6 linked regions of the Homo sapiens genome follow. The protein of the gene in region 3 interacts with the protein of the main gene of each other region in a pairwise test. Each region holds a gene or a part of one and is shown on either strand. Other genes may lie near its edges. The genes, in order: MALT1, FAM83F, CSNK1A1, FAM83B, FAM83E and FAM83G.

Region 1 (3,500 bases), on a different chromosome or scaffold from region 3:
AAGCAGATGTTTGGAGGTTTGGATCCCATTTGTCTGCCATTGCCTTTCTAAGGAGTAGAACCAATGACTGTTCCTCTAGATTTACTATTTTTTTGCTTGCTCAGCATTTACCAATCAAAATCCAATGCCAGAGTTCAAATGCAACTCTAGTTTTAAAGCTAACAAGGAGTTAGTGGGTTATTTTGGGTAGATATGTAGCTACCTAGATGAAAAATTTTGAATCTATAATTTTAAATTATGTATTCTAAAAAACTGTTGTATTTTCTCATTATTTATACCCTTTTAAGAATGCTCTTTAACTTTTCATATTTCTATCTGCCCTCCTCCGCCTCCCTTAAATAGAAATGACTACGATGATACCATTCCAATCTTGGATGCACTAAAAGTCACCGCCAATATTGTGTTTGGATATGCCACGTAAGAACATTTGATGTTTACGTTGAAGTTTCCTTTATTGTTTGATGTCTTTTTGTTTTTGCTTTTTAGGAGCAGGGGTCTTAACTCTGTCACCCAGGCTGGAGTGCAGAGGCGCCATCATAGCTCACTGCTCCTGGGCTCAAGCGATCCTCCTGCCTCAGCCTTCTGAGTCGCTGGGATTACAGGCATGTGCCACTGTGCCTGGCCCCTGAGGGTTTTTTGATTATAGATTAGAGGCCTAGAAAATACCTATAGACATGTAGGCATAAATTTACCTCCTTGATATTCTGCGTAGAAAATTTTAAATGATCGACTTTAGCATTCCATATCATGGTATCTTAATTATTAAGCCCAAATTGGGCATGTAATTCCTGCTTAAAGATTAACTCTTTAATTATCAATGTCATGTGAGAGGCAGAAGAGAAAATGAAGCTTATTGGTGTATACAGAAGTCCCATGTGGCAAGTGTTTGCTTTTCTAACATTTTCTTTTTAAAAAATTATTTTTATTGGATATTGACAAGTTATAATTGTATGTATTTATGGGATACAAAGATATGCTATGATGTACGTATTCAATGTGGAATGATTGAATCAAGATAATTCACATATCACCTCAAATACTTATCTTTTTTCCTAACTGAAACATTGTACCCTGTGACTAACAGTCCCCACGCTGTCCCCACCCCCCCCCAGCCTCTGGTAACCACCATTCTGCTGGGTGCTTCTCTGAGTTCATTTTTATTAGCATCCACATATAAGTGAGAACATACAGTATTTGCCTTTCTGTGCCTGGCTTAACTTCTTTTTCTATTTTTAAGGTGTCAAGGAGCAGAAGCTTTTGAAATCCAGCATTCTGGATTGGCAAATGGAATCTTTATGAAATTTTTAAAAGACAGATTATTAGAAGATAAGAAAATCACTGTGTTACTGGATGAAGTTGCAGAAGGTAAAATAAAAAATAAAGAGAAAAGTACTCAGAAAAAGGAGAGCAGGGGAGACACACCTATTCAGGGTTCCCTCTCTGGTGATTGTTTTATTCTTATTATGTGGGTTTGGAATTAGTACCTACTTTATAAAACAATTTTTATATTAATATAACGTTCAGCAACACTTCTGCTATTTAATGTCATCTTTCCTTCCCTTTTGACCTAGCTCTCCACCATCTGTGCAGCATTACTCAGACTACAAGGCTAAGCCTCGGCACAGTCATTAATAAAGTTGAATTCTCAGAGCTCTACTTTGCTTCTATGCCCAGTGCCTTGGTACTGGCAAATCTCCCTATTTGAGGGTGGGTGGGTGGCATGGAGGGGTGGTGGGGAATTGTCCAGTGAGCAGTCTCTCCCAGGATGGGAGAGAGAAAACTTTACAGAAATTTTTAGACACTGCTGGGAAAAGCTGAGTTCATTTTTTTCCCTGATGAACTTAGTAGTTTTTAAATCCTGATTTAAGGATGTGATCCTAGGGGGTCTAATGCCACATCTTCCATTTCTATCTGTTCTCCCTGCCTGCTGGTATAATGCTGTGCATATGTCAGATGCTGAACAAGTACCTATTATTTCAGTAGATTGCACTGTGTTTTTTGAAAAAACATTTTATAAGCCATAGCAAAAAGAAGGTAACTTGGCCAGGTATGGTGGCTCAAGCCTGTAATCCCAGCACTTTGGGAAGCTGAGGCAGGAGGATCACTTAAGGCCAAGAGTTCAAGACCAGCCTAGGCAACATAGCGAGACCCTGTCTTCAAAATAAAAAATAAAAATAAAAAAGAAGAAATTATTTTACAAACTAGCACCACTAGAAAATGGAGTTTCATGGATGTTCCAGTGATGGCAGTTTGGGTATAAGGTGTTTGACCAACTGTCAGCCATATTTATTTTCATGTTTTTATCTGTGTAGCTATTTTAGATCACTTGACTTAGCCACTTTTCCATTTAACATAACCAGCCAGGGCTTTGGACTTCCTGCCACCCTCCCGCTTCATCCAGAGAAGTTCCACTTTTATTTGTTTTCTACATTAGGCTTCTTCTGAAGCTTACATTTGAAGGAAAGGCTCTGCTGCTTTAAAAAAAAAAAAAGAAAGAAAGAAAACCTTTGGATTATGTCAGTTATATTCAAACTGAGATCCAGTAAGGTGCTCCAGAAACTCTACAGTGTTTTATTTCAATTTCGTTTTTAAGTCCATTTTAACTATTTTAAAACTTAATAAAAAGCACCATGCTCACTCACATATGATATTTACCAAATTGTCATAGCAATGAATGGCATCCCGATATGTGCTGTGAGGATATTTGAACTTCTTATAAACATCTTAGACAGTTTTGCTTTTCGCTGATCTTTTTCAGTCCTACCATGTCTGCTTAACCAGAATTGCCCAGGCAGGAAGACCCTGTAGTGTACATGGAGCACACTCAGCTCAGTGCCGTGCACATTGTGCCCTTCGTGGGTAACGGCCCACTCATTGTACAAAATAAGTAAAGGCCTAATAGTATCATGATAAATAATACAGTTAAATCTAGCCCTTATTTTGAGTTTTGGATGCTTTGTGTCTGACCCCTGTCTTAGTAGTAAAGAGCAAAAGTAGTTGTATGAAATTTTTCACAAGTCATCCAATTTTGAAACAAAACTTTGCTGTTTCTCCCTTTGGATCTTCCAGATTACTTAATTGAAACTCATTCCATGGCTGGGCATGGTGGCTCACACCTGTAATCCCAGCACTTTGGGAGGCTGAGGTAGGAGGATTGCTTGAGCCCAGGAATTCAAGACCAGTCTGGGCAACACAGCAAGACCCCATCTCAATTTAAAAAAAAAATTATTTGGGGCCAGGTACAGTGGCTCATGCCTGTAATCCCAGCATTTGGGGAGGCTGAGGCAGGAGAATCACTTGAACACAGAAGTTTGAGACCAACCTAGGCAACATTGTCAGACCCCCCATCTCTATAAAAATTTAAAAAATTAGCCAGGCATTATGGTGTGCACCTGCAGTGCCAGCTACTCGCGAGACTTAGGTGGGAGGATTGCTCGAGCCTGGCAGTTTGAGACTGTAGTAAGTATGACCACACCACTGCTCTCCAGCATGTGTGACAG
Region 2 (4,012 bases), on a different chromosome or scaffold from region 3:
CACACAGTACTCACCTCCCCCCACGACAGCTCTTTTTACCTGCCAATCAAACCTCCTTGCTTTTTCGAAGCAAAAAGCTCTCTTACTGAAACAGTGCCCATTCCAGTTGACCCTCTCCCTTTCCAATTCTGCAACTCACCTCCCTCAGGAAGCCTTCCCAGATTAGGCACATTCAGCCTTAAAAACTCTTTTCTTTCCAGCAGAGCCCTAGCATTTGTTAAGCTCTTGGAGGGCAAAGCCACACCGTGTATCTTCTTCATGGCTAGGTAGTGCCTGGCACACAGTCAGCCCTCAGGAAATCACTGGTTAAACCTGTACTTATTGGATGGGTTCACAATTGTTAAAAGTTTCTGTTGTTAAATATTTAAAGAGTCAAAAATACCTCACTATGCAGGAAAGAGTCCTGTCATCCCACATGGGACTAGATGCCTCAGTGGCCAGAAGCCCAGTCTCCCCCTTCTAGTAACAGGGGTACACCACCTGCACTCCAGGTTGTGACCAGGCTAGCTTCATTCAAACCCCTTGCTTAATCGGACTGCACCATTATTTCAGACACTGGGGCAGTGTAGCACAGTGGTTAAGAGCAAGGGCTTTGGAGTTTGGGTCCTGGCTCAGCCACTTACTAGCTATGGAAACTCTGGCAAGAAACTTCTGAATCCTGATGTCTTTTTCTCCAAAAATAAGGAAAACACATATTCACCCGGTTGTTGTGAAAAGCTAATGAGAAAATGCAGGTGAGTCATTAACACAGTGGATGGCACATATTAAATGCTAAATAAATAGAGGCTTTGTTAGTATGACATCATGAGACTTGACCCCTAACCCCAGCTGCAGCCTGTATTGCCGCCTACATCCTTTTTCCCTCTTCTGTGTCCAATCTTGCCTTTTTCTTCTGCAGAACACAATATACAAAGAAAACTCAGTCAGACAGGGAGGAATTATAGAGAGGGAGGGTAGAAATGTGCGCAGTGGAAAGTTAACCCTTCCTTCTGGTAGCCAATGTAGCCAACTATCTAGATCACCCCAACTACCTAAATCACCCCTTCCAGGAAGATGAGCCTGAGCACTGGTCTTTCTAGCTCTATTTTCCCTCCTCAGGCCTCTTCAGCCTCGAGGGGAACCAGGACTCCAACCTCACTCACTGAGTGGAATTTGAGTGGTGAACCCAAGCCACTCCTGTTGTATTATTCTGAATTGGGCACCAAAAGCTGCTGCTGTTTCTTAACAAATCTCAGTGTAGGGCAGCCAGAGTTAGCAAATAAAAGTACAAAACGTTCCCATTCAATTTGAATTTCAGATACACAACGAAGAATTTTTCAGTATCAGTACGTCTCATGTCATGTTTGGGATAAGCTGATACTAAAAAGTTATGTGTTGTTTATTGAAAGTTCAAATGTAGTGGGGCATCCTACATTTGATCTGGAAGCTGCCCAGGACTCCCACCCAAAGGCATAAAGATTAAAGTCTTCCACCTGTTCCACAGTGGACTGGCCTCACCAGCCACCCTGGAAACAGCCCCTCCTTCCAACTCTCAAGCAGGACACATATGCTAAGTAGGAGCCCTTTCCTGAGCTGCCGAGTCAGGTGACCTGCTGTGCCAAGGCGCCCAGCACAGGGCCAGGCACACAGTAGGTCCTCAATATACCCCGTCCCCCATTCATTCCAGGCAGCTGGGGCCTAGTACCCGGCCCAGGAGAGGCTGTGACTGTGAGGGCGCCAGCTCAGCTTTGACTATGGGAGGAGAGGGGTGGTCCAAGGAGCAGCATGGCAGAGGTGGGACCGGGAAGGTCACCGCCACCCACTCCCTGAAGTTGTTTTGACGATCACATGAGAAAGCGGCTCGGGATATGTTCTGGGCAGCACGTAGGTTATCATCAAGACCTTTGAGTGGTGCATTTTAACCACAGGGCCTCGGCCCCCAGTCTTCCCTGGGGAGGAAGGCTGGACAGGGAAGTTTCAGAAGTACAGAGCAGAGCCAGTGCCTCTGAACGCTGGAATACCGACGGCTGACATCTGTCCAGCACCTTGTAATTTGCCAAACACGTTCCCAGCCATTCGCTCTACAGGCCTCACTGCAGCCCCAGGAAGTAGGGGCGGGTTGGGGCCCATTTTCCAGAGGGTGCTCAGGGCGGCCTGCCCCGGGCCCTGCCTGGGAGGTGGGGCCCGGTCCAGGGGACTGGGGCCGAGGTCCCAGCGGTGTGGGGGCGAAGGCGGGGGCCTACCTTCTGGGCCTGTTGGATCATCTGCCTGACCACCTGCTTGAGGTGCGGCGCCTTCTCGTCCTTGGGCGGGTGGGTGAAGAGCGTGACCCGGCTCACGCCGCGGTAGAAACCAGTGTCCGTCCAGCCCAGGTCCAGAGGAGGCACCTCGGTGTCGGAACGGTCGGGCCAGTAGGCCAGGGACTCGCCGGACTCAGCCGGCGCCGGCGCGGGGGCCTTGGCCTTGGCCTTGCTCTTGCCCCGGGCGTTGGCGGCGGGGACGGCGTCCTCGTAGGGGCTCCAGGCGGCCCGCAGGGCCTGGCGCTCCGGGCTGGAGAGGAAGTCCCGCAGCTGCTCCTCCTTGAGCCGCTCGCGGTAGGCCTGCTCGCCGCCGCCCAGCAGCGCCTCCAGCGCGGCCCGCCGCCGCTCGCAGTAGTAGAAGGCGGCCTGCGCCTCGGTCACCTTCTCGTTCACGTGCGCCTCGTCCAGGCAGTTCAGCTGGGACTCGGCCATGGCGCCCCGGCCCCGGCCCCGGCCCTGGCCCCGGCCCCGCCGCGGTCCGAGGTCCCACAGCCGCACCTGGAGCCGCCGAGGGGCGGGGCGCCTCACCTGGCCGCGAGCTCTGCCCCGGCCCGTCCCGCCCCGCCCCGCCGTCGGGGAGCGGCCAATCCGCGCGGGCGTGGCCGTCGGGCGGGGAGGGGCCGCCGCCTCCGCCGGGCTCGCCGGGACCTCCGGGCGGCCTGGCGGACGCGGTCGGGCCCGGGCCTGCAGGGCCCACCAGCCGGGGCTAGAGTCCCTGAGGGGACGCCCCCAGGGGGCGGGGCCGTCGCAGACCCACGTGCGGGCTCCGGCCCCGACTCCTCCGCGGGGTAAAGGTTCGCTGTCCGGCCCTCGCTGCCATCCGCCCCCGCCGGCCGCGTCGCGGGTACGAGTTCATTTTCCGCGCACGTGGAGTCCGGAGCACGTGTTCTGGCCCAGTGGCCTCTGGGGCCGCCGAGCTGACCCCTTCCCCGTCGAGGGTCCGGTGTTGGTGGGGGGGCCTGCTGCAGGACGGGATTGTGACGGCTGAGGAGCGGGCAGGGGGTGTGCAAAAGCGAAATGCTAATGAGAGCTCGAGCTCCCCACCCTTGCGTCCCAGTTCTGAGATCAGAGCCCTTCTGGGCTGGGAGTCCAACACCTTCACTGTAAAACTTTCTTTTAAAAAATAGCTATCCAAACAGAAATGATGTAAAGAGCAGCAGTGGAATTCCCCCCGCCCCCACCTTAATTTGAAGTAGGGTGTGTGGTGTCTCTCCGTGTGTGTTTGGGCAAGATAGGCTGCCAGAGACATGATTACTATATTAGTGATTCAAAATGTATGTTTGAGCTCAAGGAAGGAAACCGCACGTGCGTGCACACCACACACACGCACACACACAGCAGCGGTGGCAGCAGCTCTGCTGTTTCCCATCGGATTAAATACAATCGTCTTAGTCATTAACATATTATGTTGTTCATGCACTGCTCTACAATTTGATTCTCCACATTCAAAATATTTTCAGATCATAACAACTAAAGGTTCACATTTCTCTCACTTTATAGCGCAGCATCTCAGAGCTGGAAGGAGCTTTTCAAGCTCCTCCAACCCCCTCATTTTACAGTTGAAGAAATTGAGGCCTAGCAACGTGTGCGTTGCCCAGGTCTCCCGTGAAAGAGGCAGAGCACGGGGACTGCAAGGTTTTCTGTCTTGGAGGTCTTTCGCTGACATCACGGCCGCCTTTACCCTTTCTCCTTTTCTTGTGAAACGACAGGTTATTGGGGACCTGGTTTTCACC
Region 3 (3,500 bases):
TTCTTTGTTGCAGCCTGTGGAAAAGAATAAAATAAAAAAGATATACTCAGTGCTACTGAGAAGAACCATGGTAGTTTAACGCACTAGACATATAAACATATACCTGTGAGATTCAAGAGAAATTTTAACCCAGAATTTAAAAAATCAAAGTATAATACATCTAAAAAAAATTTTTCCCAAACTGTTAACTTCTGATGTAAGTTTCTTCTCTAAGAATTTAATTTTAGCTATAGGGAAAGGGTGAGTCTAATAGGAATATATGGATATTAGATTTAAGTAAAAATGGCTGGGGCCAAAATTGAAAAGCATTTTCTTTCTTTCTATATATTTTTTTAAGGAGATGGGGTCTCACTATGTTGCCCAGGCTGGAGTGCAGTAGCCATTCACAGGCTCAGCAGTAATTCCCTGTGGCCTCCAACTCCTGGCCTCAAGCAATCCTCCTGATTCAGCCTATCAAGTAGCTGGGACTACAGGTGTGCATCATCATACCCAGCTGAAAAGCATTTTCTTTCCTTTTTCCTTTTCTTTGTTTTTTTGTTTGTTTGTTTGTTTTTTTGAGACAAGGTCTCCCTCGGTTGCCCAGGCTGGAGTGCAGTGGCTCGATTATAGCTCGCTGTAGCCTCGAACTCCTGGGCTCAAAGCAATCCTCCCGGCTCAGCCTCCTGAGTAATTGGGGCTACAGGCATGTGACACTACACCCTGCTATTTTTTTTTTTTAAAGTAGAGGTGAGGTCTTGCCATACTGACCAGGCTGGTCTTGAACTCCTGGGCTCAAGTGATCCGCCTGGCTGGGCCTCCCAAAGTGTTGAAGATTATAGGCATGAGCCACCATGCTCAGCCTGAAAAGCATTTTCTTAACCCATGTTCAACACAAGGGCAAAGGCATCAGATTAATACAAAAAAATTTGTTCATCAATTAGTGACATTAATAAATGGAGTTAACTGTATAAGTCACAATATTTTTCTAAACTAAAAATACTCATATTAGATAAAGCTACCCACCCAAGGACTGAGCACTACAACTAGCTCACAGCCACTCAATAAATACAGGTATTCCTTCAAAGAACTGGTAAGGTACCAAAATAGCCATTAAAATTTAGGACACACCAACAGTGGTGACTCACACCTGTAATCCCAGTTCTTTGGGATGCTGAAGCAGGAGAATCACTTGAGCCCAAGAGTTTGAGACCAGTCTGGGCAACACAGTGAGGCACTGTCTCTACAAAAAATAATTTAAAAATTAGCTGGGCATGGTGGCATGTTCCTGTAGTCCCAGCTACAGGTAGGAGGCTGAGATAGGAGGACTGCTTGAGCCCAGGAGGTTCAGGCTGCAGTGAGCCAGGCATTCCGGCTTGGGCAACAGAGCAAGACCATTCCCCATGCCCCCACCCCCACCCAAAATTAGGATACGGTGATTTATCATTAACATACACTCACAAAAGTAACAGTAAACTCCTAGCTAATAGAAACAAAATGTTAGGACATGTATTGCTGGATAAACAGGTCTTGCTGTACATAAAAACATACATTTTCAACATAATGGCAACACATCAAAATGAGAAAGTCTCCACCTTTCTTAGTCCATGCCCACTTCCATCTAGATAGAGCTAGTGGCTACCAGTGGGTACCAGCTTACTGTCTCTTAGAGGACACTGTTCTTCAGCTGAACTAAGTTCTTACTAAAATGATCTGGTTTCATTTTCCCAGATAAAAGGTAAAAAGTAAATTAAGGTTAATTCTTTATATCTCAGAAAAATCTCAGACTTAGAAGGGACCTTAAATCTTATCTTCTCCAATATATATTTTTATTCTAAAAAAGAGAGAGAAAAATCTGATAATGTGAGTCTGGTTTACCTTTAGCCCTTGCCATGGCAGGCTGGTTCTATTAAAATACATCAAAACATATCCTAATGATTCCATGTCATCTCGGCGACTAGAAAAGAGAACGTAATTTTATAAACTGGAACTATTATTATGAAAAAACATATGAAAGAAAGTCAAGTACCCAGAAGAAATGTTCCCAAATGAGGAGGGAACACTATTTGGTGTCTTACGCAAGAAGCTACTTATTTAAGGTGATTTTAAAAAGTTCATGTGTTACCTACCTCTAAACAAAACTTTTTCCATGGAATCCAAAATCTGACAAACAACTGTCTTACAATTTAATTTTAAAAGAACAGAAACGATTTGGCTAAACAACCCTCTAAATGAGCTTAATGAACCAAGCAGGATGACATTTCTATGTTTTGCAGAAACTCATTAAAAAAAAACTTCAGAAGTACTGAAAAGGAGTTACAACTTAAAACTAATTGAACATCTATATGAATGTATTCATGCATACATATCTATATACACATACATACAAATATATATTTAGATATATATATATTTAAGGATAGGTAATGCCTTGGCGTACAGAAAAAGTGACATTACAGTTTAACCTAGATCATTCAGATATTCATGGATATTTCTTAAGCCTGAAATTCTTGGTATGAGGTTCTTTAACCTGGAGGCATATCATTGTTTTTTCTACTTATTACTTCTATGCTAGTTTTAAGGAGCAAAAAGTGACTGTAAAAGATGAAAGGAACTCGAAACTCTAGAACTCATGTGAAGAAATAGGAAGAGAGCAGAGACTGTTACTTTTTTTACTTTAAACTAGATCCTATTAATTTATATATTTGAGTGAAGTATAACAGGAGATGGTCCATCAACCCACTTTTGGTTTATTAGGACACTGATAACATTTTCCTTTTAAAAATAAATAATGCATTCTTCCCAAACTCAGCGTGAATTACTAAAGTATAAAAAGCCCCAAATAGCTCTAAAAATATATGTACTATCTTCAGCTGCAAAAAGAAACGTCAACATTGCACTTATGCTTCTAACTTTCTATCACGCAGTATTTTCCCCCCAAGAGACAACCTTCAACAACAACAAAAAATCCAGAAGACCTCATTTAACGGTCTTCTCTACACTGGTTAAAGCAGCAGGTAAAATGATTAATAAGCATCCTTCAAATCCTCAGCCAAGAAACATCCTTAGACATTGTAAGAAACTAAAATATTTCAAAAACCCATTGATGGCTTCTGCTATGGCTATGATAAGCACATTCCATTTTCGAACTTACCTCTGCTCAATACCAAGATGTGCATTGATGCTAGCATATCGGGCAGTGCCAGTGAGGTTTTTATCTTCTCTGTATGGTATGTGTTGCCTTGTCCTGTTGTCTCTGTACTTTTTGGCCAAACCAAAATCAATAAGGAATAACTTTAAAAGAGAAATACAGAAACATTAGGTTTCCAACCTTGTTCAATTAAACTGCGTCTTATTCATTAAATGGTATCTATTCTATGCATTCAAATATATCAAAATAAAGTATCCTAAGTATTAATAGAACAGATAATGAACAGACTTAACACCCCCCCATAAGCTTTTACTAGTCTTCATCAATAAATCAAGTTAAAAAAAAAAAGTCTAGTAGTTTATCCTTGTCGTTT
Region 4 (3,500 bases), on a different chromosome or scaffold from region 3:
GCCACTTTGTCACTATTTTACATATCTGTTTTGGCATCTAACATGTATGTTTTTTGTTGATTTCTGCAGATTATATTAATGTGTCTCTATTTATTCATCCAAATGATTACTGATCAGGGCCAGAACAAGAATACGTCACTTTGGTATGGCACAAGACACAACTTTATCAGGATAGCCTTGTAGTTTAGATGTTGGTAAAATAATAATTTAATTTTATTTGCATTTTTAAGCCATGTATAATCCTTTGGAATTTGAGCATTCAGTATAAGCTCTCTCTGTAAATGGTTTATTTTTTCTTAATGAATTTATTTACAGGAATTATTCAATAAATGCTTCCAAATGACATTGAATAATTGTGTTTTAATGTCATTAACATGTATTGGGTATTTTTTTCCCCCAATATCTAAAATTCCTGTAGTTTATATCTAAGAAGGCAAATAGCAGCCAGTACAAACAAACCCTGGAATCATATTGGTATGAAAGTGATATTGCTATCCCCTCCCTCCAGTTAAAGTAAATTGAGGAAATTAAAGAATGAGTAGGTATTGAGCAAATGGGATTCCCATTTGAGATTTAGAAAATGAATTGGAAGTATGTTTATTGTTTTTATGAGTTTGATAAGATGGGTGATTCTACTGGTAATCCATCTGTGGAGATGTTTGCACCCAACACCCTGTGACTGAGTGCGTCATGTATTTATACTTTCTGTGACCTGCTGAATATCATGCCGTGCAGATGACTGTAATCTGTGCTATTGGGCCATGTTGTTATAAGTATTATTATGAAGCCAGCTTAGAATTTTTTAATGAGTTTGGATGTCAACATGAGATATCAAATTGCACTTGACAGCTTGAATATTATAGTCAATTTTTAATTTAATAGAAACTTCTTTCATGTTTTAATTGTTATCTTAAATTTCTGGTAATCAAATGAGAAGACAAACAATCTTGACAGCTGAAGAAAGAAAAGATATATGATTTTCAACTGTTGTGGACCATGGGTAATGATTTTATATGAAAGAGATGTTCTGAAACAATCCTTTATGAAACATTTTCTTACATTATGTAGACAGACATTTTGATACATATCATAAAGTCAATTACCAAAAGAAATAACAAATTCAAGAATTTTTTCCCTCAATATATGAGAGTTTGCAAAGTATTTCTTAATAAAATTGCTTAACATTGAAGTTATATCAGATAACTAGTTTAACTATATCATTTAAGCTGCAAAAACCAATCATTTCTAAATGGTAAATTTACTTGGTAATTTAAGTTTATTTAAAAATTTTGAAGGTTTCAAAATAAAAGCATTTTTGTACGCATTTGTATCAGCTGCCTAGTGCAGCTGTAACGAAGTACCAAAAATATTGGCTTAAAACAGCTGAATATATTCTGTTATGCTTCTGAAGTCTAGATGTTTGGAATCAGAGTGTCAGCAGGGCCATGCTCTCTTTGAAGTGCTCTAGGGGAGAATCTGTTCCATGCATTTCTCTTATCTCTGTTCTTGTAGGCAATTCTTGGCATTCCAGTCTCTGCCTCTGTAGTCACGTGCAGTTCTGCCTTTGTGTCTGTCTCTGTGTCCCCTCTCTCCTTATAGACACAAGTCATATAGTCATATTGGATTAGGATCAGCCATGGTCTAATATGACCTCATCTTAACTTGATTACATCTGCAAAGACCCTATTTCCATGTAAGGTCACATTCACCGGTAATGCAGGTTAGGACTTCGACATATCCTGTTGGAGGATGTAGTGCAACTCATAAAGCATTCAATACTTGGAGAGAAACAGCTTAAGAGAGAGACTGGAAAATGGACTGCAGTGATGTTAGCACCTGTGATATTTTTTATATTTGTTTCAGTCAAAATTCTGACTTTGGTTTATTGGCTTGCACATTAGGTAATTATAGCCTCGGACTTTTGATTTAAAAAAGCTGTAATTTCTCTTTGGAACATTTTCCCACTGACCTATTACATCAGAAGCCTATTCAATGAATTCTCTCAGGTCAGAAACTAGGAACAAACTGATACTAGGTTTGGTTGTTTTATACTGCAGATGATTAAATAGTTACAAATTGTATGATATTGCTAATGGTATGAAAAAACATCTCTTTTCAAATCTTAAAATCTCTTATCAAATTTATTACATATTTATAGTAATTATACTATAGCAGATTGTGAACATGTAAAATAGTCATAATAATAATAATAATAATAATAATAATAATAAGGTTGAAATGCATTACCTTATTTATTCCTTAAAATAACCCAAGAAGATAAAGACTGTTGTTATTCTCCTCTCTACATCTGCCCAAACTGAGGCTTGTGGACGTGTGTAACTTGTCCAAGAGCTTCATAGTAATTGATGAAGCAGAGTTTTAACCTGGCAATTTGACCCTACAGATGAACTCTTATCTTGTGTGCTATAGGTTTTTTTTTTTTCTATCTAAGTCTCATGACATTGCTCATCAGTAAGATTTTTTTCATTAAACTTTTTATTTTGAGATAATTGTGGTTTCACATATAGTTAAGGGCAAAAATCCAGAGAGATTCTTTGTATCCTTTACCCAGTTTTCCCCAGTGCTGCTGTCTTGCAAAACTATAATACTGTATCGTAACCAATATGCTGATATTGATACTGTCAAGATATAGAATATTTCTATAACTACAAAAATTCCTCTGATTGCCTTTTTATAGCCACATCTACCTCTCCGACTGTCATTTTAAGAGTGCAGCATCTAACCAAATGGAATTATTCAGCATGTAAACTTTGGAGATTGGTGTTTTTTCATTCAGCATAATTCTCTGGAGAGTCATCCAGGTTGTTGCATGTATTAGTAGGCCATTTATTTTACTGCCAAGTAGTATTCCACAGTATGGGTGTACCATAGTTTAATATTCACCTGTTGAAAGACGTTTGGGTTGTTTCCATTGTCAGGCTATTATGAATAGAGCTGCTATAAATATTTGTGTACAGGATAAGTTTCAACTTTTCTTGGATAAATCACCAAAGTGCAGTTGCTGTGTTGTATGTTAGTTGCATGTGTCATTTTATAAATGAAACTGCCAAACTGTTTTTCCAGAGCAGCCCATGAATTGAAAGCAATTTTTATGACTTATTTTATATCCTTTGTATTTATAGAATTTCAGTGGAATTTCTACTTGATACAAATGACCCTAAAGCTCAATATCAAATGCAATTTTTAATTTTTTTTGAGGCATGGATTTGTAAGGCCACTTTTTTTCTGGAATGAGTCATTTAACTGTTAGATAAGCCTAATGGTCTGCTCAGCTTACATGGCATAGTGATATCTTTTTTTTTTTCTCTACTCATTAACTCTACTGTGTATGATAAAAGAATATGCTTCCTGGGAGTTTTTAATAGTTATTAATAAAATAATTCCTTATTTTTTATATATATATTTAAAGGCACACCTAATTAATTTTGTCCTCAAATAAAGCCCTCCAAATGTTCAGGGATTGAACTGCTGAGAGTGCT
Region 5 (4,052 bases), on a different chromosome or scaffold from region 3:
GAAACCCCTGGCTTGGTGATGAGGGGATGGGGGAATGACTGAGACTGGGGGTGTCATAATTAGGTTCAAGGGGCATCGATACCTAAGGGCATCCAGGTCTTGGGGGAGGGTAGGGGCCCCCATTTCTTTCTTTTTTTTTTTTTATTGAGATGGAGTCTCGCTCTGTCGCCCAGGCTGAAGTGCAGTGGCTTGATCTTGGCTCACTGCAACCTCCGCCTCCCGGGTTCAAGCAATTCTGCTTCCTCAGCCTCCCGAGTAGCTGGGACTACAGGCGCCCACACCATGCCCGGCTAATTTTTGTATTTTTAGTACAGACGGGGTTTCACTATGTTGGCCAGGCTGGTCTCAAACTCCTGACCTCGTGATCCGTCCACCTCGGCCTCCCAAAGTGCTGGAATTACAGGCGTGAGCCACCGCGCCCGGCCGGGCCCCCCTTTCTGAGAGTAAGGATGAGGTCTGGGGTTGTAGGCACCTGAGTCCTGGGGCTGGAAGGTGTGCACTCCTGGGTCCCAGGGGTATAGGTCCTTTAGGGTAGGGGTGTGCGCTTGCAAGTCCCAGGAGGACAAGGGAGAGAATGCCTGGGTCCCCGTCCCAGTCTGGTGAATGGACACAGGGCCCCCGCGACACCCACCTTGTGGGCAGCCTGGATCTCCAGCCGCACCAGCTCCTTGAGGGGCGGCTGACCCTCTCCAGGAGGCTGGGTGTACAGCTGCGCCCGGGTGATGCCTTTCCACGCAGAGTCCACTGGCCAGCCCAGCCGCAGGACGGGCGCCGGCTGCTCCGACTGCCCAGGCCAGTAGCTCAGGCTGCCCGCGTCCACATCGGTGGTGGTGGCTCCCTCTGCCATCCCGCTGGGCTCCTGCTTGGCCACTGTCCAGTCTTCAGCTGCCGCTGCCAAGCCCTGAACCTCATCCGCACTGAGGAAGGGCCACAGCTCCTCGCGCTGCACGCAGGTCTGGAACGCCTCCGCGCCCTTGCTCAACAGAGCCTCCAGTGCCAGCCGCTGGCCCTCGGAATATAGAAAGCCGGGGCTGGCCCCGGGCACCCTGGGACCGGAGTCCACTCCTTCCAGCGCCGCCAGCTGGGAGGCCGCCATCGGGGTCACTCGGGTGGGAGGACTGACTGTGAGAGGCTGGGTCCCCGGGGGTCTGGCTGTCTCTGGGGACTGTGATCATCTGGGGGTTCTCCTGATAGGCAGACCCTACGTGGCCATCCGAGGCCTCCGGCGGGGCCCTGCAGATGTCCAAATGGCTCCCTGCAGCAGCCCCTGCCACACTGTTCTGACAATCACGCTGCCCAAATAAGCGACCATCCAATGTGTCAGGCCACTCAGATCCGCCACCTGCCTGCACCCAGTGGCACCATGCCTGGCTGGCCTTCCGTGACCTTCCTGCCAGCCGTCTCTGCTGGTCAGGTTGACCTCCTGACACCATCCCCAACTGTGTGACCCATCAGCTGGCCATCTCTGCTCAGCCACACGACAGCCTCCAACCCACCAGTCACACAGTGCCCAGTCAGACCCTTCAGCTGTCCTGAATTTGGTCAGGCTGACCACTTGATCATTTCCAGGCGGCAAGCTGCCTGCCTGTCTCTAATCACCCAAAGGTCCTTAAAGGCACGACAGGTTGCCTGCCTGCCCCCGGCCAAGAGCACGACGAACTGACCCTCTCCTTCCACTGTCTGGCAAACGCCAATGGCTTCCGACTGACAGTCACAGTATCTGCCTGTTGGAGCATCTGTCTCTGGCCAAATCTGACAGCCCCCACGAGTTTCTCCTGCTCATCAGCTCTCACCCGCAGACCAGCCAGGATGCCTCTCCACTGGGCCTGCTCGCTCAGCCTTAAAGGCCGAAGGCTTGGCAAACCCTTCCCTACCCTGTCAATGGGGGACCCTGCTCCCTGGACCCTCCTCACACTCCTTCCAGCTGCTGCAGTGGAGGGTGAAATGCGCTACAGGGGTCTCCATTACTATGGGACAGGTCTATGATCTTCACAGCCCATCTAGGTGTGAGTGCCACCTAACCAGCCACCCTCCTCAGGCTGGCTGCCCCTGCCTGGGGCCTGGCCCTGGGACCTGTTCCAGGCCGTCCTCTGATCTGCGGGGAGCCCTACCCAAGCTGCCCCCAGCCTGGTTTCTGCCTAAATGCTATCTCCTGCCAGCTACCCGGACGCTTCTTCCCGGACAGGGGCCAGTCTCTATCTCGCCCTGTCTCCCTCCCAAGCCTCAGTTATCCCCTTGAGGCTCCTGACCCAACCTCGGGGACCCTGGACCCTTGATCCCTGCAAACCAGAAGCCCTTCATTCCAATCCCACCAACCCAGGCCGCTGCTTCCTCCAGACCACAGCAGGGAGCTGCAAAGAGAAGAAAGGAGTCAAGGCAGGCCAGCCTCCCCGCCCCACCCTCACCCATCCCCCCCATCGCCGGGGCTCACCCACACCGGCTAGTGCCGGGCTCAATGGCCTCCCTTCCAGTGCCTGCTTTTTCCGAGAACGTAGGCTGTGGCTCCCCGGCTTCTACTTCTGCGGTGCTTCCCGGCTTCTGGCCTCACTCATCAGGCCTCGACCTGGAATCCAGGGAGCCCGGCCCCTTGTGTAAACACAGGAGGGCCCCCACAGGCCCCTGGAGGAGGTCCGGGGGTGCGGCTCACACGCTTTCTTTACCTGTGCTCTCCCAGGGGGTGAACGCCCCTCTAGACTCAGGCTTCCCGGTCCCCGGGGGGTTGAGATTGCCTCACCTGTTCCCAGGCAGTCTCTCCCTCCCCACAGCCCTGCCAGCCTGCACCCTGCACTTCCCGGTCCACGCCCCACCCGCCATCCCAGCACCAGGGAGGGGCACAGGATCCTTTAAGAGGGGCGGGCGTGGCTGACCCAAGGAAGCCGGTGTGGGAACACCTGCCACCTGGCTGTTGGGAAGGAGGCAGGGAGCTTCCGGGGCAGTGGGGGCAGGAAGAGGGCTGGTCTTCACTGGCATGACGTCCCTGTCCCCAAACCAAATGCATTCTCACCCGCAGGAACCAATTCTCCAACCCATCCCCCAATAACACACACAGAGCACTGTCAGCAAAAATCTTTTTAATAAGAGAGTAGGATCCAGGGTTAGTTTTTGTAGCCTCGGCTGGCCCGTCGGCCTCTGGCACGCTCGAACTTCCGGCCCTTGGAGCGGACGTAGGGTCTGTGGGGAGAGGAGGGAGTGAGAGGGGGGCCCTCTTAAAGGAGGCCATTGTGGAGTGGCACAGGAACACCACAAGCCTGTCACATTCAGCCCCAGGAGAGTCAATGCTGCTGGAAAAGCTTGGCAGAGTGGGAAGCCAAGGAGCCAGGAGGGGCTATGGAAGCACCTGCCCCACCACCTGGAGGGTCCCAGCCTGGGCTGGCAAAGGCCGGTGAACTGCATGCTCCCCAGGAGATGCCTGCTCAGGCCCTGGAAAACACAGCTCCAAGCAGTGTTGAAGGGAAAAGCAGGCAGGATGAGGCAGCTGAGAGTTCCAGAAGGCCTGGGGCTGGCTGGTACGAGGGATAGGAGAAGCAGCCCAAGTGTGGCCAGGCCTGGCCCTGCAGGCTGAGTCTGGGGAGAGGGCAGGGCTGGGGGCCTGATACTCACTTGGTGTGGCTGTGCGGGGTTCCTGGGGCCTTGCCGAAATGCCGGTACACCTCTCGGCCCTTGCGAGGACCTAGGGAAGGGGAAGGAGAACCGGGTGAGACAGGGATCTGGCGCCCAGCTTCTGGCCTCCCAGATCCAGGAGGGTGAAGGCTGCCAGTAGCCACACAGCTCAGTCCAAACCCGTCGACCACGTATCACTCACCGGAGAGCAGGACAGTGCCACAGCCCTTAGGGGAGTCCAGGGCCAGCTGGTCGAAAGTGAGGATCTTGCCCCCTGCCCTGAGGATGCGGCTGCGGGCCCGGCTGGTCACGCGCAGTGCACATACCTGGTGGAGAGGACAAGGCTGGCGGGTCAGACCCCTGCGTGGTCACCCAGGGGCTGCCAGGACTCACCCTCCACTGCCTTGGCGCAGCAGAGCCCTGGTAACCAACACTATCGTTTACTACCCGGA
Region 6 (3,500 bases), on a different chromosome or scaffold from region 3:
AAGACCAACTGGCTTGGTCTGGGAATGACTGCAGGAATCAGGGCATCTGGGACCACAGCCCCTCCTGGGCCCTTGGCTTCCCCATCTGTCAAATGGGGGTGTGGGCCTGGCTTGCCCCTGTGGTTCTATCCAGTTCACACATTGTCAGAGCTGGCCCAAGTCAAGAAAAGTACCAGATGCTTCACGTAGCCCCAAGCCCACACGTCCTCTCAGAGGTCCTGGGCAGGGCAAGGGCTGTGGAAATGAGAGGGGAGGCTGACTCCAAAGACCAGCTCTACCTGCTGTTATGTCAGGGGCCACACTGGGCAGGAGGCGGGTGGCCTGGGTCCCATCACTGAGCTTGTTCCGCTCCTGAGGCAGGAACCAGCCATGTCCATGTGAGCAGCTGGCACAGGGGCAGGCATGGCAGGCGGGCACGTGTGTGTCCTGCACCCCAGGTACCGTTGTCAAAGCCGACGGGCAGCTCCCAGCCCAGCAGCCTGGAATCTGCGCAGGCCACACAGCCCAGCTCCCAAGTGAAGGAGGGAGCCCAGTGGTCCCTGTGCATCTTACTGATGGACAGGCCTCTGCTGGGCGGCCTTGAGGCCTCGAAGATGCAGCTGCAGAACCCAGGAGGCCCAATGCCCAAGACAACCATCTGACTCCTGCCAGGGTGTGGGAGGATGGCCCAAGATGGCAGGGTGTGGGAGGATGGCCATGCCTGGGGGGCAGAGGCAGGCAGGCTGCACTGGAGGGAAACACCAGCAGGGATGTGGGCACTCCTCCAGTGAGCCAACAGCGAGCCTGCGCCTGCCCCAGCCCAGGCCTCTCCCTGGGGGCTCCTGGTGCCCAAACACCTCCGGCATGTCTGTCCAGGGGTGTCCATATGCACAAGCCCTCCAGCGCCCCGCCCGATGAGCACCTCCTCCCATGCTGTACCCTCCCTGCCCAGTGGATCCGCCGGCCTTCTCCACCCTGCCTTCTGCCTGTGTCTCGAATCCCCCACCTCCCTCTGTGTCCTTGGGACAGGGGGACATCCGCCTCCATGTGAGAGATGCAGAAACTGCAGCTGGGAGAGGGGAGGGCACTGGTCCAAGGTGGTGCTGCATGGGGATCCCCAGTGCCCTGCCAGGAGCACCTCCAACACCTGGGCAGTGACCGGAGCAGCTTGAGCTGGGATGCAGGGGTGACAGCATCTCACACAAAGGAGAACCCCACCTGTGGCCACTGCCCCCCAGCAGACACGGCCTGAAGCCACGTAACACTGGCTGCTGGCGTTGGGGGTGGGACAGGGCTTTAGGTCACAGAGGCAGGGAGCACAGGCGTGGGCCTCCTCAATCTCCCTCAGCCCCAGCCAGAGCCCCCTGAGCAAGGGTGGAGCGGGCGGAGTCGGTCCAGCACCGGCGCCCAAGCTCTAGGCTGGGCTTTGGGTGAGCCACACCTGCGTTCCAGGTCTCAGTTTCTTCACCTGTCAAAGGAGAAGGTGGACAAGATGTCCAAGGCCCTTCGTCTCTGATGTCCCTGCCGAGGGACCCCAACTCCTGTTCCCTGCCTGGTGCCGGGCAGGGCCTGTCTGGGCGGCTAACACATCTCATTGCGCCCACAGGTCTGGGAGAGGAAGTGCTGGTGGCCGCCCTCTCCCTGCCTCCCCACACAGCTCCTGCCTCACAGGTGCCAACAACAGCCTGTGGCTCCTGACACCCACAACAGCTGTTTCCTAGCCTTCCTGTGACCACAGAACCACTCTTGAAGCAGAAGTGCCCTCGCAGGACGAGTAGGTAGAACAGGTCTCCACAGAGGTGCCTGGGGAGGAGGGGTGGGGCGAGACGGGCTGGCCTGGTTCCGAGCATGGTGGGAAACCACGGGTGCACAGGCCCAGCCTCTGCAGCAGCACCTCTTCAGGGGGGCCCTAAACCAACGCATCCTGACCCCTCTCCCCGACGCTTCCTGATCCCTCTCCCCGACGCGTCCTGCCTCAAGCCACTGTGTCTCCTACATGTTGTTCTCCTTGCCACCTGCCCATTTTGCATCTGCTCGGACAACTACCTTTTTTCAAATCCCAACTCCAGTGCAGCCCCAGCCTCCCCTGTCGTCACTCTGGCCTGTCTGGGTTGAGCGTGTATCACTTGCGTATTTCTTCTCAGGCACAGCAATGGAGTCTCCCAAGGACTGAGTCGCAAGACTCGGGTAAGAGGGGACAGTTTCCAACCTGCACGTGACAAGCCTTACACTCACCTCACCCTCCTAGGCCTCAGAGATCCCTAGAGGCGGCTCAGAGAGAGGAGAGAGGCGGCCATATTCTCTCTCCTCACTATGCTCCAGGCAGGTGGAGGACAGATACCCTCAAGCCTGCCCCAGAACCTGGAGCCCTGAAGCAGCCACAGACACTGCACACACTGCAGACAAGTCCCTAGGCCTCTCTGGGCCTCACTTTCCCACCTGAGAAGTGCCGGGGGTGGACAGAGTCTCTCATCTTGGGGTTCGTTATTCTCCAGGTCTGATGGCAGATGCCCAGACAGTGGCAGTGTGGGCTCTGCACCCGCTGGCTCCGATCTCAGCTCCTCCTGGGAAGCTGCATGACCTTGGGCAAGTACCTTCATTTCCTCATGGGGATAATAACAATCCCCACCCACAAGGTTGTTGGAAATTAAAATGAATTCATGCAGGTGAAGCCCTAGCAGGGGATCCACAAACGGCAGCTGCACGGACCCTCCTCGTCCTCCCACCAACCCAAGTCCCATCCCACCAGACCCACAGCTCCCTCTGGGGTGAACAGGCCAGCAGCGTCTCACTACCCTCCGGGCCAGCTGGAAGGCTGTAAGTGACGCATCAGGGCTGCTCACAGGAATGCTGCAGACTGTCTTAAAGGTTGAGGCAGTGGCCATCATGACCTTGGATTCAACTTCCACTTACAGCCATGATGGAATAACAGAGACGGAATTCACCCCCTGCCTTAGCAATAAAAAACCCGGATAAAATCTATGAAGCCATGGACAACAGGCTTCAATCAGCACAGCGATTCCTGAGAGAAGAGGAACAAACCAGCTGAGCCCTAGGATCACCCCACTATTTCCAGGCTGCAGCACAGGGAGGGGCGCCCCCGTGGAGTCTTGTGGTCTCCCTGAGTTGAGGAGACAGGGTTCACTCTGAGTGTAGCAGCTAGGATTTGCAGGACGGAGTGCCGCAGGGGAGAGAGCTGCACAGAGTGAACTCCAGAGACCTGCAGAGGGTCCCCTGGAGTCTTCAGCTGATAGCCGAGCAGCACACGAACGTGAGGAAACTACTGAGGCTGAGCAGGGAACCACTGGAAAGGGGAGGCTGAGCAGAGAACCACCGGAAAGGGGTGGCTGGAACAATTGCTGGTGCTCACGCAGGACCGGGAATAGTGTATGTGCCCCCAGCCAGAACAGAAACCCCTCCTAACACACAGGTCCTGCAGGGGGTGTCCTCAGAAGGATACTGCCTCAGCAGTTGACAAATAAGTCCTAGACCAGGCATAAGCAAACTTCCTGAAGAACCAG

The links.
Region 1: the proteins of CSNK1A1 (region 3) and MALT1 interact in binary tests that used the Homo sapiens proteins (3 or more experiments, as listed by UniProt).
Region 2: the proteins of CSNK1A1 (region 3) and FAM83F interact in binary tests that used the Homo sapiens proteins (3 or more experiments, as listed by UniProt).
Region 4: the proteins of CSNK1A1 (region 3) and FAM83B interact in binary tests that used the Homo sapiens proteins (3 or more experiments, as listed by UniProt).
Region 5: the proteins of CSNK1A1 (region 3) and FAM83E interact in binary tests that used the Homo sapiens proteins (3 or more experiments, as listed by UniProt).
Region 6: the proteins of CSNK1A1 (region 3) and FAM83G interact in binary tests that used the Homo sapiens proteins (3 or more experiments, as listed by UniProt).

Annotation. Positions count from the first base shown.
Region 1 is NC_000018.10:58,733,965-58,737,464, forward strand, and holds part of MALT1 (mucosa-associated lymphoid tissue lymphoma translocation protein 1), read left to right. Parts: exon of another isoform or gene 1-16; intron 17-342; coding exon 343-417; exon of another isoform or gene 418-423; intron 424-1,237; coding exon 1,238-1,365; intron 1,366-3,500. UniProt on the Homo sapiens protein: Protease that enhances BCL10-induced activation: acts via formation of CBM complexes that channel adaptive and innate immune signaling downstream of CARD domain-containing proteins (CARD9, CARD11 and CARD14) to activate NF-kappa-B and MAP kinase p38 pathways which stimulate expression of genes encoding pro-inflammatory cytokines and chemokines.
Region 2 is NC_000022.11:39,993,742-39,997,753, reverse strand, and holds the start of FAM83F (protein FAM83F), read right to left. Parts: upstream 2,801-4,012; 5' UTR 2,712-2,800; coding exon 2,223-2,711; intron 1-2,222. Other genes in the region: uncharacterized protein LOC124905155, read right to left, coding at 2,986-3,406.
Region 3 is NC_000005.10:149,509,940-149,513,439, forward strand, and holds part of CSNK1A1 (casein kinase I isoform alpha), read right to left. Parts: intron 3,271-3,500; coding exon 3,131-3,270; intron 1,934-3,130; coding exon 1,855-1,933; intron 15-1,854; coding exon 1-14.
Region 4 is NC_000006.12:54,863,771-54,867,270, forward strand, and holds part of FAM83B (protein FAM83B), read left to right. Parts: intron 1-2,226; exon of another isoform or gene 2,227-3,500. UniProt on the Homo sapiens protein: Probable proto-oncogene that functions in the epidermal growth factor receptor/EGFR signaling pathway. Activates both the EGFR itself and downstream RAS/MAPK and PI3K/AKT/TOR signaling cascades.
Region 5 is NC_000019.10:48,612,277-48,616,328, forward strand, and holds the start of FAM83E (protein FAM83E), read right to left. Parts: upstream 2,801-4,052; 5' UTR 2,661-2,800; intron 2,564-2,660; 5' UTR 2,432-2,563; intron 2,352-2,431; 5' UTR 1,097-2,351; coding exon 632-1,096; intron 1-631. Other genes in the region: RPL18 (large ribosomal subunit protein eL18), read right to left, coding at 3,096-3,171, 3,601-3,670, 3,803-3,926. UniProt on the Homo sapiens protein: May play a role in MAPK signaling.
Region 6 is NC_000017.11:18,991,265-18,994,764, forward strand, and holds part of FAM83G (protein FAM83G), read right to left. Parts: intron 1-3,500. UniProt on the Homo sapiens protein: Substrate for type I BMP receptor kinase involved in regulation of some target genes of the BMP signaling pathway. Also regulates the expression of several non-BMP target genes, suggesting a role in other signaling pathways.